2 separate regions of the Homo sapiens genome follow, and region 2 is linked to region 1. The links come from fine-mapping of genetic effects on gene expression. A gene starts in region 1. The other region holds a variant in brackets. All regions are shown on one strand. Distances are from middle to middle. Region 1 holds the start of THUMPD1 (THUMP domain 1 NAT10 acetyltransferase adaptor). Region 2 overlaps GPR139 (G protein-coupled receptor 139).

What was found. PIP is the estimated chance that this variant, and not a neighbour inherited with it, causes the effect.
Region 2: its variant is the best candidate, but not a certain one, in a credible set for the expression of THUMPD1 in unexposed skin (GTEx, PIP 0.85).

Annotation. Positions count from the first base shown.
Region 1 is chr16:20,739,738-20,745,116 of GRCh38, reverse strand. THUMPD1 (THUMP domain 1 NAT10 acetyltransferase adaptor) reads left to right here and starts at 3,299. Exons shown (of 4, transcript NM_017736.5): 1 at 3,299-3,608. The coding sequence starts at 3,378. It also overlaps a transcript of ACSM3 not described here. RefSeq lists enhancers at 3,224-3,493, 3,504-3,553, 3,854-3,993, 4,024-4,113.
Region 2 is chr16:20,044,707-20,050,085 of GRCh38, reverse strand. All of the region lies in intron 1 of GPR139 (G protein-coupled receptor 139), which reads left to right. Among named protein-coding and RNA genes, the nearest start is that of GPR139, 26 kb to the left of the region's middle. The variant T/C (reference allele first, on the strand shown) is at 3,174.

The DNA of each region.
Region 1 (5,379 bases):
AGGCTGAGTTATTTAGAGCTGGACGAGGGCCTGTTTCAGAAGAGGAAGTAAGTGGACGCAGCCCCGGCAGCTGCCACAGGATGAGTGTGTGATTTAGATAACTAACGTCTAGACTGAGAGCTACAGGGTTGCATATTTTTCTCACTTCATTGGATATTCTCTGCACAGTCAGCAACCATGAAATACAATAAACTGTTAAAAAACTTTAGACAAATTAAATTTAACAGAATTAAATTGCACAAGGAAGGATTCTCAAATCAGGCAGGCCCCTGACCCACTAACCGGAATAGGTTTAGAGACATCCTGGTGCTGCCACATGGTCAGAGATGATTTATGGACATAAAAAGAAAAGTGAGGTGCAGGAAATGGAAGTAAGGTACAGAAACAGCCCAATAGGTTACAACTCAGTATTTGCCTTATTTAAACGTGGTTTGGCTGGGCGCAGTGGCTCATGCCTGTAATCCCAGCACTTTGGGAGGCGAAGTGGGCAGATCTCTTGAGGTCAGGAGTTCAAGATCAGCCTGGCCAACATGGTGAAACCCCATATCTACTAAAAATACAAAAATTAGTTGGCCGTGGTGGCATGCACAGGTAATCCCAGCTACTTGGGAGGCTGAGGCAGGAGAATCGCTTGAACCCAGTAAGTGGACGTTGCAGTGAGCCGAGACTGCACCAGTGCACTCCATCCTGTGCGACAGCAAGACTCCGTCTCAAAAAACATAAAAATAAAAAACATGGTTTGAACAATCAGCCACCTGTGAGTGGTTGAGCATGGCTTCTGTGCTTGGCTGAGATTTGGCTACTTGTTACAACAGCCATTACAGTCTGTTTACACATCCAATTAGGTTATAGTTCACTATGTATGGAGAAACCTGTAGGCCAGGGATGTCCAATCTTTTGGCTTCCTTGGAAGAAGAATCCTCTTGGGCCACCCATAAAATATACTAATGCTAACAATAGCAGATGAATTTTTTTTAATTGCAGAAAAACCTCAGAGTGTTTTAAGAAAGTTTATTAATTTGTGTTGGGCCGGTTGAATTTCAAAGCTGTCCTGGGCCACATGTTGACTGTGGGCCAACAGGTTGGACAAGCTTGATTTAGGCCAAACTTAAATTTAGCCTAAAGCTGCCTCCTCACATATTTTAACAAAACTGAGTTTTTGTTTTTCAAGTTTGCCTCCATATAGTACTCAAATATGCTTGGGACTTGAAATATATATATTTTAACTTGTTATCTGTATGCTAATATTTGATATCCTAAGGACAGGTGGCAGAGTGTGGGCAACTGAAACCCAGCCAGCAGAAGAGAGAGAGATTTGGGGGAAGGCCAATGCCAGTGTCATGACACTGCTCTTCACAAACAACTGAGGACTTCTAGAAATCTCTGCTGTGCAGTGTCCACCAAAGAAATTCTGAAAATTAAATGCTGTATTGAATACACAGGTAAAAGCAAACAATAAGATGATAAAATTTTTGGACATAGTGGTAGATCTGGGGTTAGAACCTAGGGTTTATTGACTGTGAATTCGGTGTCCCTTTCAAAATATCAGATTACATCTTTTAGGGCTTTGTAGGAACTCAAATCTGCTAAGAGGTTTGTACCTGAAGAGTAGTATGAGAAGCACTTGTTTTTTAAACACATTCTTCAAAAGTGGCATCTTCAATGATTTTTAAAAAGACAGTAACATGATAAGTTGCCAAGACTATGGATAAAAGGCCGCAACGAAAGCAGCATGAAACAACACCAGCCAACATCCTTGGTTTTAAGTGAAATAGAAACATAGCCTGGAAAATTGAGGCTGAAATGGAATTTACTGGAAGCCTTTTGAGTAACTGTTCTATGTGGGAAATGCGCGAGGGGAAAAAACAAGACAAAATACGGCCAGGCGCGGTGGCTCACGCCTGTAATCTCAGCACTTTGGGAGGCCGAGGCGGGTGGATCACGAGGTCAGGAGATTGAGACCATCCTGACTGACACGGTAAAACCCCGTCTCTACTAAAAATAAAAAATATTAGCCGGGCGTGGTGGCGGGCGCCTGTAGTCCCAGCTACTCGGGAGGGAGGCAGGAGAATGGGGTGAACCTGGGAGGCGGAGCTTGCAGTGAGCCCAGATCGCACCACTGCACTCCAGCCTGGGCGACAGAGCGAGACTCCATCTCAAAAAAAAAAAAAAAAAATAGACAAACATACAATACCTTTGGGGGTAAACAACCTTTATCCCACGTAAATGGCAATGCAGATATAATAAGCAAATGATATAGTAAGCAAATTGCAATGGGAAGGGGAGAAGGGAAAAAAAAAAAATATATATATATATATATATATTTACACGCACCAGACTATGTTGGATTCATCACCAGACCGGGAAGCAACAGCCTGGGCTCCAGAGTCAGCCACTTGTCCGTGCACAGAGGAGGAGGGGTCTCAAGAAGCTTCCGTGTGGCCTGGGACCCTGGCTCATTTTTTTTTTTTTTTTGAGACAGAGCCTCGCTTTGTTGCCAGGCTGGAGTGCAATGGCACGATCTCGGCTTACTGCAACCGCCGCTTCCCGAGTTCGAGTGATTCCCCTGCCTCAGCCTCCCGAGTAGTTGGGACTACAGGTGCGCGCCACCACGCCTGGCTAATTTTTTGCATTTTAGTAGAGATGTTGGTCAGGATGGTCTCCATCTCCTGACCTCGTGATCTGCCTGCCTTGGCCTCCCAAAGTGCTGGGATTACAGGCGTGAGCCACCGTGCCCGGCCGACCCTGGCTCTTTTTGTAATGCGTTGATTGGCATGAGGCCCAGTCACGAGGGCCCTTCTCGACTGGGCTCAAGGAACACATAAAGGTCAACTTGTTTCTGTGATTGTCTGTTTTTCAATAACTCAAGTACAGGTACAGAGTTATCTGTAACAGTGCTGGATGAATGAATGCCTCAAGGGGCTCATGCAACCTGTTACGGGACTTGACCATTGTGTCCACGTTCAATTGAGTTCAAATTTAATATTTAACTTTTCCTCCACAGTAGCTGGCAGAATTATAGGGAAGGCTGGAGGAACAGGTACCAAGGTTGGGTGGAAGAAGCTATATGGCTGGAGCCAGCTTCAAGGGCTTGAGGAGCCACCGACACCACTTCCAGAATGGCTGCTATGCTGCCTCTACTGGATTCAGGTTGCAGTCGGGAGGCGGGGCAGGAGGCGGGGCTTGGGCGGGTATCACTCCACCCCTTTCACGATTGCAGACCGGCCTTAGGACCTGGCGCAGCACGGAATGAGGCTTCGAGGCCGGCTAGGGGAGGCCGTCGCTCATATCCGACGTCACCAGTTCGCGCCGGCGATAGACGAGGACGCCAACAGCAGCGGAGAAACGTTTCTCTTTCCTCTCAGTTTGCGCACACCATGGCGGCCCCTGCCCAGCAGACTACTCAGCCTGGCGGCGGGAAGCGCAAAGGCAAGGCTCAGTATGTGCTGGCCAAGCGCGCTCGGCGCTGCGACGCTGGCGGGCCCCGTCAGCTAGAGCCCGGGCTACAGGGCATCCTCATCACCTGCAATATGAACGAGCGCAAGTGCGTGGAGGAGGCCTACAGCCTCCTCAACGAATACGGCGACGACATGTATGGGCCAGAAAAGGTACCGGTCCCGGGGTGGGCGGGCGGGCCGGCTGCCAGGCCTTGCGGGAGGAGGGAAGGGTGGAGGGATGGCTGCTGGTATGGGCATGCGCGCCTCGGGTCGTCGGCGTGACGGCTGTAGGGGCGTGGCCTCGCCGGCGTTTCCGTCCCTAGTCCTGAGACGCTCGCAGACTTCGGTGCTATCGGTTTTGTGCTTGAAGTGCTTGCACCTTTTCTTGCCATCAGTAACCACGGTAGCTCCCATTACTTTTATTTTTATTTTTGTGAGACAGGGTCTCGCTCTGTTGCCGAGGCTGGAGTGCAGTGGCGTGATGATAGCTCAGGGAAGCCTCGACTTCTCCTGTCTCAGCCTCCAGAGTAGCTGGGACTATGAGTGCGCGCCACCACTCTCGGCTAAGTTTTGTAAATTGTAGATAAGGGGTCTCACTGTTTGGCCCAGGGTAGTCCTAAACCCTACACTCAAGCGATCCTCCCGTCTCTGCCTCTCAAGGTGCTGAGATTACAGGCGCGAGCCACTGAGCCCGGCCTACCTCCCACTTAAGGATTGCTCATTGAGGGCCAGGCGGTGTGCTGAAGCTCTTTCAGAAACACATTTTTCATGACAGCCTCGTGAAGTTGGAGTAATAATGTGTTTACCTGAAGCAATAATATTTCTGAAATAATAGGTTTACTACTAATGCTAGTTACTGCACTTAAAATACATTTTAGAACGTAAAAACTTTTACCAATATCACCTAAAGTCTTAGTGTTTGGAAATCATATTACTGGCTTAGAATCTGGACCAATACACACACGCACACTGAGGGATTAAATGAAGAAGGGTAATACAGAGGGAATTTAAATTCACGGCTCATCCTCTACTAGCTTGGGGACTCGGACATGGGCACATTATTTGATGCTGCTGAGCTAGATAAAAAAGAGAATACTTTAAGACTGGCTAGTGAGTTGCTTATGTACATAAAATACATACTGGTATGTAATAAAGTTTCTGTAAATGTATACAATTATTATTGTGCCTGACTGGCAATTTCGTTGGGCACTAGGGGGCAGAGAGCTGGGCAACAAGCACATATCCTGTCTACTCCTGTACTTTAAGCAAATTCTTTTTTTGGAAGCGGTCTTGCTCTGTCACCCAAGGTGGAGGTTGGAGTACAGTGGCATGCTCTTGCTCACTGCAACTTCCACCTCCGGGGCTGAAGCAGTCCTCCTGCCTCAGTCCCCGAGTAGCAGGGACTGCAGGCATGTGCCACCATGCCCGACTAATTTTTTGTATTTTTTGTAGAGACGGGTTCTCAGGCCATGTTGTCCAGGCTGGTGTCAAATTCCTAGGCTCAAGGGATCCGCCCACCTCTGCCCCCTAAAGTACTGGGATTACAGGCATGAGCCACCATGCTTGGCCAAAATTATTGAACAATGTATTTCTGTGCCTTGTTCCTTAATAGAACAAGAGTAAGGGTTTTTAATTCCACAGGTATTTGGTCTAATCTCACCAAAAGGACAGTGTCGTGTGAGGCACACAGATACCTGGTCAACGTGTTAAGGTCCACCCTAAAATGATTGATCTGGTCAGCACGTTTCTCTCTGCCTCAAACTGTCAGGATGCTTTTGAAAACATTTTCAAATTTTACATTCTATAGTCTGCGGGAATTCCCTCTTCCTCCACATTTTTTTTTTTTTTTTAATTTTTTTGAGACAGAGTCTTGCTCTGTCACCCAGGCTGGAGTGCAGTGGTGCAATCTCAGCTCACTGCAATATCTGCCTTCTGGGTTCAA
Region 2 (5,379 bases), 700 kb after region 1:
CTGCCAGGCTAGAGCCTCCAGGAGGGCAGAAACTGGTTCTTCAGGTTTACTGACATCTGCAACCTGTGGCAAGGTGCCTGAACACATTAGGGAGTCACTATTTGCAATGGAAAGAAAGCGAAGGAAGCTGGCCTGAGTGGGCTTGATGAATAAGGCAAAATGCTCCTCACTTAGGTTGGGTTGGTGAACAACCAAAATAACATTTGAGCATCACCATGTGCCAGGTGCTCTTCTAAGCACTTTATTTGTGTTAATGTATTTAATTCCCACAAGAATCATATGAGATAGGCATTACCATCCCCACTTTACAGATAAAGAACATTGAGGCATGGAGTGTTTAAGTAACCTAGCCACAGTCACAAGACTAGGAATCAGCAAACCTGGAATTCAACCCCATGAAGTCTGGTTTCACTCTCGGAGCTCTTAATCTTTCCTCATTTCAACAAGGGAAAAGTGTTCTAAGAGTGAAACTGTCAATCACATTCAATAGGGAAATGAATTCTATTTCTGAGCATCTACTCCATGCCAAGCATGGTACAGATGATTTCGCACATTAAATTACTCAGTCTTCTTAACAGCGCTTTGGAAAGATGTCCCCATTGCACAGATGAGAAAACTGACTTAAGTGTTACGCCCAAGTCAGTAAGTGGGGAATTTGATTCAATAGCTATTATAGAAGGTAACAGAAAGGAGTGCCCAAGAAGCTACATAGACACTGGATTTAGAGAGAAAAAAGCAGAGGAAAGGGGTGTGAACAGTCATCACACATATAAGGGAACACCATGAAAATGACAGCAAACAGATGGATGTCACACAGAGAGAGCCTTGGGGAGTCCATCCATCCATCTATCCATCCGTTCATCCATCCATCCATCACTCTTTCATCCCACAAACATTGATGGAGTGCATACTCTTTGACAGCCCTGTGATAAGTCCTCAAGGTTTAGAGTAAAGAGATACAGTCCCTGCTTTCCAGGGGCTCCCAGTGAATGGGTGATAAAGATCTTGAAGAATAGCATCATAAAAATGTGTTAAATACTCTGGCCAGTGAGGTGCTTAACTCAATGCATTGAGATCAGAGAAGGCTTTAAAACTAAAGTCTTCTAGGCAAAGGATTGTGGGTGGGGAAGGTATTTCAGGCAGAAGAAATAGCCCATGCAATGCTATGGAGGTAGGAAAGTGTGTTGCACGTTCAGGCAATGGCTCCTAAAATAAAGTGGCAAGGTGCATTTGCAGGGGTTGCAGAAGGGAGCTGATGGTGCGGGAGGTACCTTGTGGGTTGTGCAAAGATTTTGGATGTTGGCTGGTAAAGCAGAGGTCTCAAACCTGCAACCCATGGACCACCCTGTGTATTGGGATGGGGTGTGTAACTGTGTTGCTTGCAAGCCTCTCCTGAAACACTGGAAGACCTGACCACAGTTGGCTGTCATTCTCTCATGGGAAACTACCAAGTGGAGCTAAATGGTGACCACCCTCCTGCAATGGGGCATGCGATATCCTGCTCACCGGAAGTGCCCACATGGCATGCCCACACATTTATATTTCCTGCCCAGGCCCTGTCATCATTTGAGTTTGCAAAATCTAACGCGGTGCCATTGAAAGGAACAGGGATTTTGAAATGATGCCTCATGCTGCCTTGGGATGATCTATTTAGCAAGTTCTCAGCACCTTGAGCCTAAGGAACAGATCTTGTACTCTGGGAGCCTGACCCAGGCTCTGGTACATGGTTGGGCATCACTAAATTTATGTTGAACTGAATTGGATTTATGTGGAAGATTCTGGCACAAACCCTCTTCTCAGGCAGCTAATGGTCCCAAAAAGATCTCTCCCACACACTGAACACCAAATTAATTTCCAATTACCCTGGATTACATCACCTGATTCATTTTCTGCAGTAAACCCTAAGTACATTCAAAACTGTTAACCAGCCTTTTGCTTCTCTGCAATGTTAAGTTAATCTATATTCATAGTTATTCATTCATTTATTCATTCAACAGGTATTTATTGAGAACCTACTGTATGCCAGGAACTATGTAAGAGCTTGGCAATATATTAATAATAATCAGCAAAGCAGGCACACTTCCTGCCCTTCCAAACTTTTACCCTGTCTAATAGTAAAGATGATAAAAAGTGTATAGCATGCCTAGCACCGGGCACTTTCCCTGTATTAATTTATTTAATCCTCATGAAAACCTGTGATAGGTGCTATATCAGCATACTTTTCATAGATGAGCAAACTGAAGGCCCAGAGAGGTTAAGTAAATTGCTCAAGGTCACACAGCTAGAAGGCTGCAGGGGCAATTTGAAACCCAGCAATCTGGCTCCAGAATTTGTACTCTGCCACCTGTCTTTCTAAGATGACGCTAGGACATGCCTTCTAAATCCTTAAAGTGGTGATCATTAAAATTGTGGTCAGCTTTCATGACACCTGCTGCCATGGAACCCTGGGTATGTAAATGAACCATAAAACATGTTCTGGAACCTTGATATAGACTAGTTCATTTTCCCCCCGATGTCACGTGTTATTGTTTTTTCTTCTTTTAAATTGGAAACACTGGATGCAAACCTAATATGAGGAAGGAGCTAGAGGATGCAAAGTCAATAGTTACTGGTTGCAGTTTATACATGGCCTTAGCTGCAGGACACGCAGGTCAGCTGTCCCTTAAAAATGATCCCTAAGGGCTGGGCACAGTGGCTCACGCCTGTAATCTCAGCACTTTGGGAGGCCAGGTCAGGCCTCCCAGGTCAGGAGTTCGAGACCAGCCTGGCCAACATAGTGAAACCCTATCTCTATTAAAAATACAAAATTTAGCCAGGCATGGTGGTGGGTGCTTGTAATCCCAGCTACTTGGGAGGCTGAGGCAGGAGAATTGCTTGAACCTGGGAGACGGAGCCTGCAGTGAGCTGAGATGGTGCCACTGCACTCCAGCCTGGGCGAAAAAGCGAGACTCCACCTCAAAAAAAACAAAAAAAAAATCCCTAAGAAGAGAAGTTTTAAGACTAGAAAGACAGCTTGAGTCACTGACTAAAGTTTGTTTTGTTTTTATTTTTGTTTTGCATGAACATAGCTCACTGCGGCCTCTAACTCCTGAGCTAAAGTGATCCTCCTGCTTCAGCCTCCCAAGTAGCTGAGAATACAGGCTTGCACCACCACACTCAGCAGATTTTTTAAC[T/C]TTTTATAGAGATATGGGGTCTCACTATGTTGCCCAGACTGGTCTCAAACTCCTGGCCTCAAGAAATTCTCCCACTTCAGCCTCCCAAAGTGCTGGGATTGTAGGTGTGAGCCACTGAGCCTGGCCATTTTTTTCTTTGTTTTAATGCTTCTGTTTCTTCACTGTGTTACTCACAGTCCCTACCATTCCCAGATCCTCGAGTGCCGTTCTCCTCAATCTCCCCCTGCATGTTTCTCTGAAGCCTTCCCTCGCCACAAACTCAGAACCCAGAACTCATTGCTGCTTCCTCTCCAAGTGCCCAAGAAAATGTCTCGGCCTCCTGGCTTACACTTACCACTTGGTCATGTAGCCTCTTTCCCTGTCTGCCTCCCTGACTAGAGGGTGAAATAGATCTGCCATCCCTCACCTGCAGCCCCAGCACAGAAAATGGCACATAATACACGCTCAGCACATGCTATGGGAATAAAAGAAGTCTCAGAGAGATGAGAAACTTACCCAAGCCACAGAGCTAGTTGGCGGCAGAGCAGAATTCTACTGAGTCAGAATGGACTGTAAGCTCCCTGTGGATGCAAACCACTTGTGTGTTTGTCTATCACTGCATCTCTGTGTCTGGAACAGTGCCTGATTCACAGTGAGCAGCTCAGTAAACATTTGTTGAATGAATAAGAGAATGCCCATCTTATTTAATTCTTCCTTTGTCCTTGTCTTCATAGGAGAATGAGGCAGGGTAATGGAAAATGATGGCTTTGTGTTGGCTGCATTTTGTATGCACAATTGATAAGCTATTTGCCCACAGCTAAAAATACCTACCCCTGGCAGCCATTGGGAGAAGCAGATGGATGATGCTTGGCACAAGATGTTTAATCAAACAGCGACAACCAAGGCAGAGCCTCAATTAGCCTCTGACACCCCAGCGAACTCCAGATGAAGAGCACAGAAGCCTCTGATTTCCTGTTGGTCCCCTCGCACCCAATAACCTTCACCCCTGTGTCCACAAAACAGCAAAAACAAATAAGTATCCCCTGGCCAAGGCAGTCGCTAGCCGGAAATCAGTAGATGGGCAGGACTGGCAGAAGCTGAGCACGTGGGGCAAAAACAATGGAGAATCAGCCAGTGGGGAGCATCATTCGCTATTGAAAAGGGGCAATGGGCAGGAGCTCAGTTGTATGCCCTGGATTTCAAGGAGGTGATTAGCTCCCCAGATCTCCTTATCCCCACTGATTCCCAGGGGCTGGGAGTGGCGAGCATTCTCAAAGGCCATATGACTGCTCTGAAATTGATCCTTCTCTCAACTTCCCTCATGCCTCATAGGTGCCAGCTGATGGACACTGTTTAAAACTAATAATAATATGTTACAAAAGAAAACAACTGGCCCATTTCTATTTAATGGTCAGTTCCCTGAGCTGATTATGGAGGTATCTGGACAAGTAAGTGCATCAAATGCACTCTAGAGTCTAACAAATTGTTTTTGAATCCTGGGTCTTGCACATACTTTCTGTCTGATCTGGGCAAATTCCTTAACCTCACTGAACCTCAGTGTTCCTGTCTTTAAAATAAGGATATTAATAGTAGCTATCTCATGATGTCGTATGAGGATAAAATTCAGTGCAAGTGGCCAGGCGCAATCTCTCACACCTGTCATCCCAGCACTTTGGGAGGCCGAGGCTGGTGGATCACCTGAGGTCAGGAGTTCGAGAGCAGCCTGGCCAACATGGTGAAACCCTGTCTCTACTAAAAATATAAAAATTAGCTGAGCGTGGTGGCAGATGCCTGTAATCCCAGCATCTCGGGAGGCTGAGGCAGGAGAATTGCTTGACCCTGGGAGGCAGAGGTTGCAGCGAGCCGCGATTGCACCACTGCTCTCCAGCCTGAGCGACAGAGCAAGACTCAGTCTAAAAAAAAAAAAAAAAAAAAAAAATAGTGCAAGTGAAACCTCTGGCAAGTGAGCCAAATACAGTCAGTGCTCAATAAAGGGAACTGTTATTGTTAAATGTACCAGCCTTGCTCAGGTGTTGGAGAGTGGGAAAGCTGGAAGAGGCATTTGATACCATTGCATACAACTTTAGTCAACTTCCTAACCCTTTCAAGCCTGAATCTTTTTTATCTGTAAGGGGATGAAAATAGCACCTACTTTACTAGTAAGGATTAAGTACTAAATATTTCACAGTAGTTATTAGGTATTGCCTGGTATTATAATGTTAGGTAA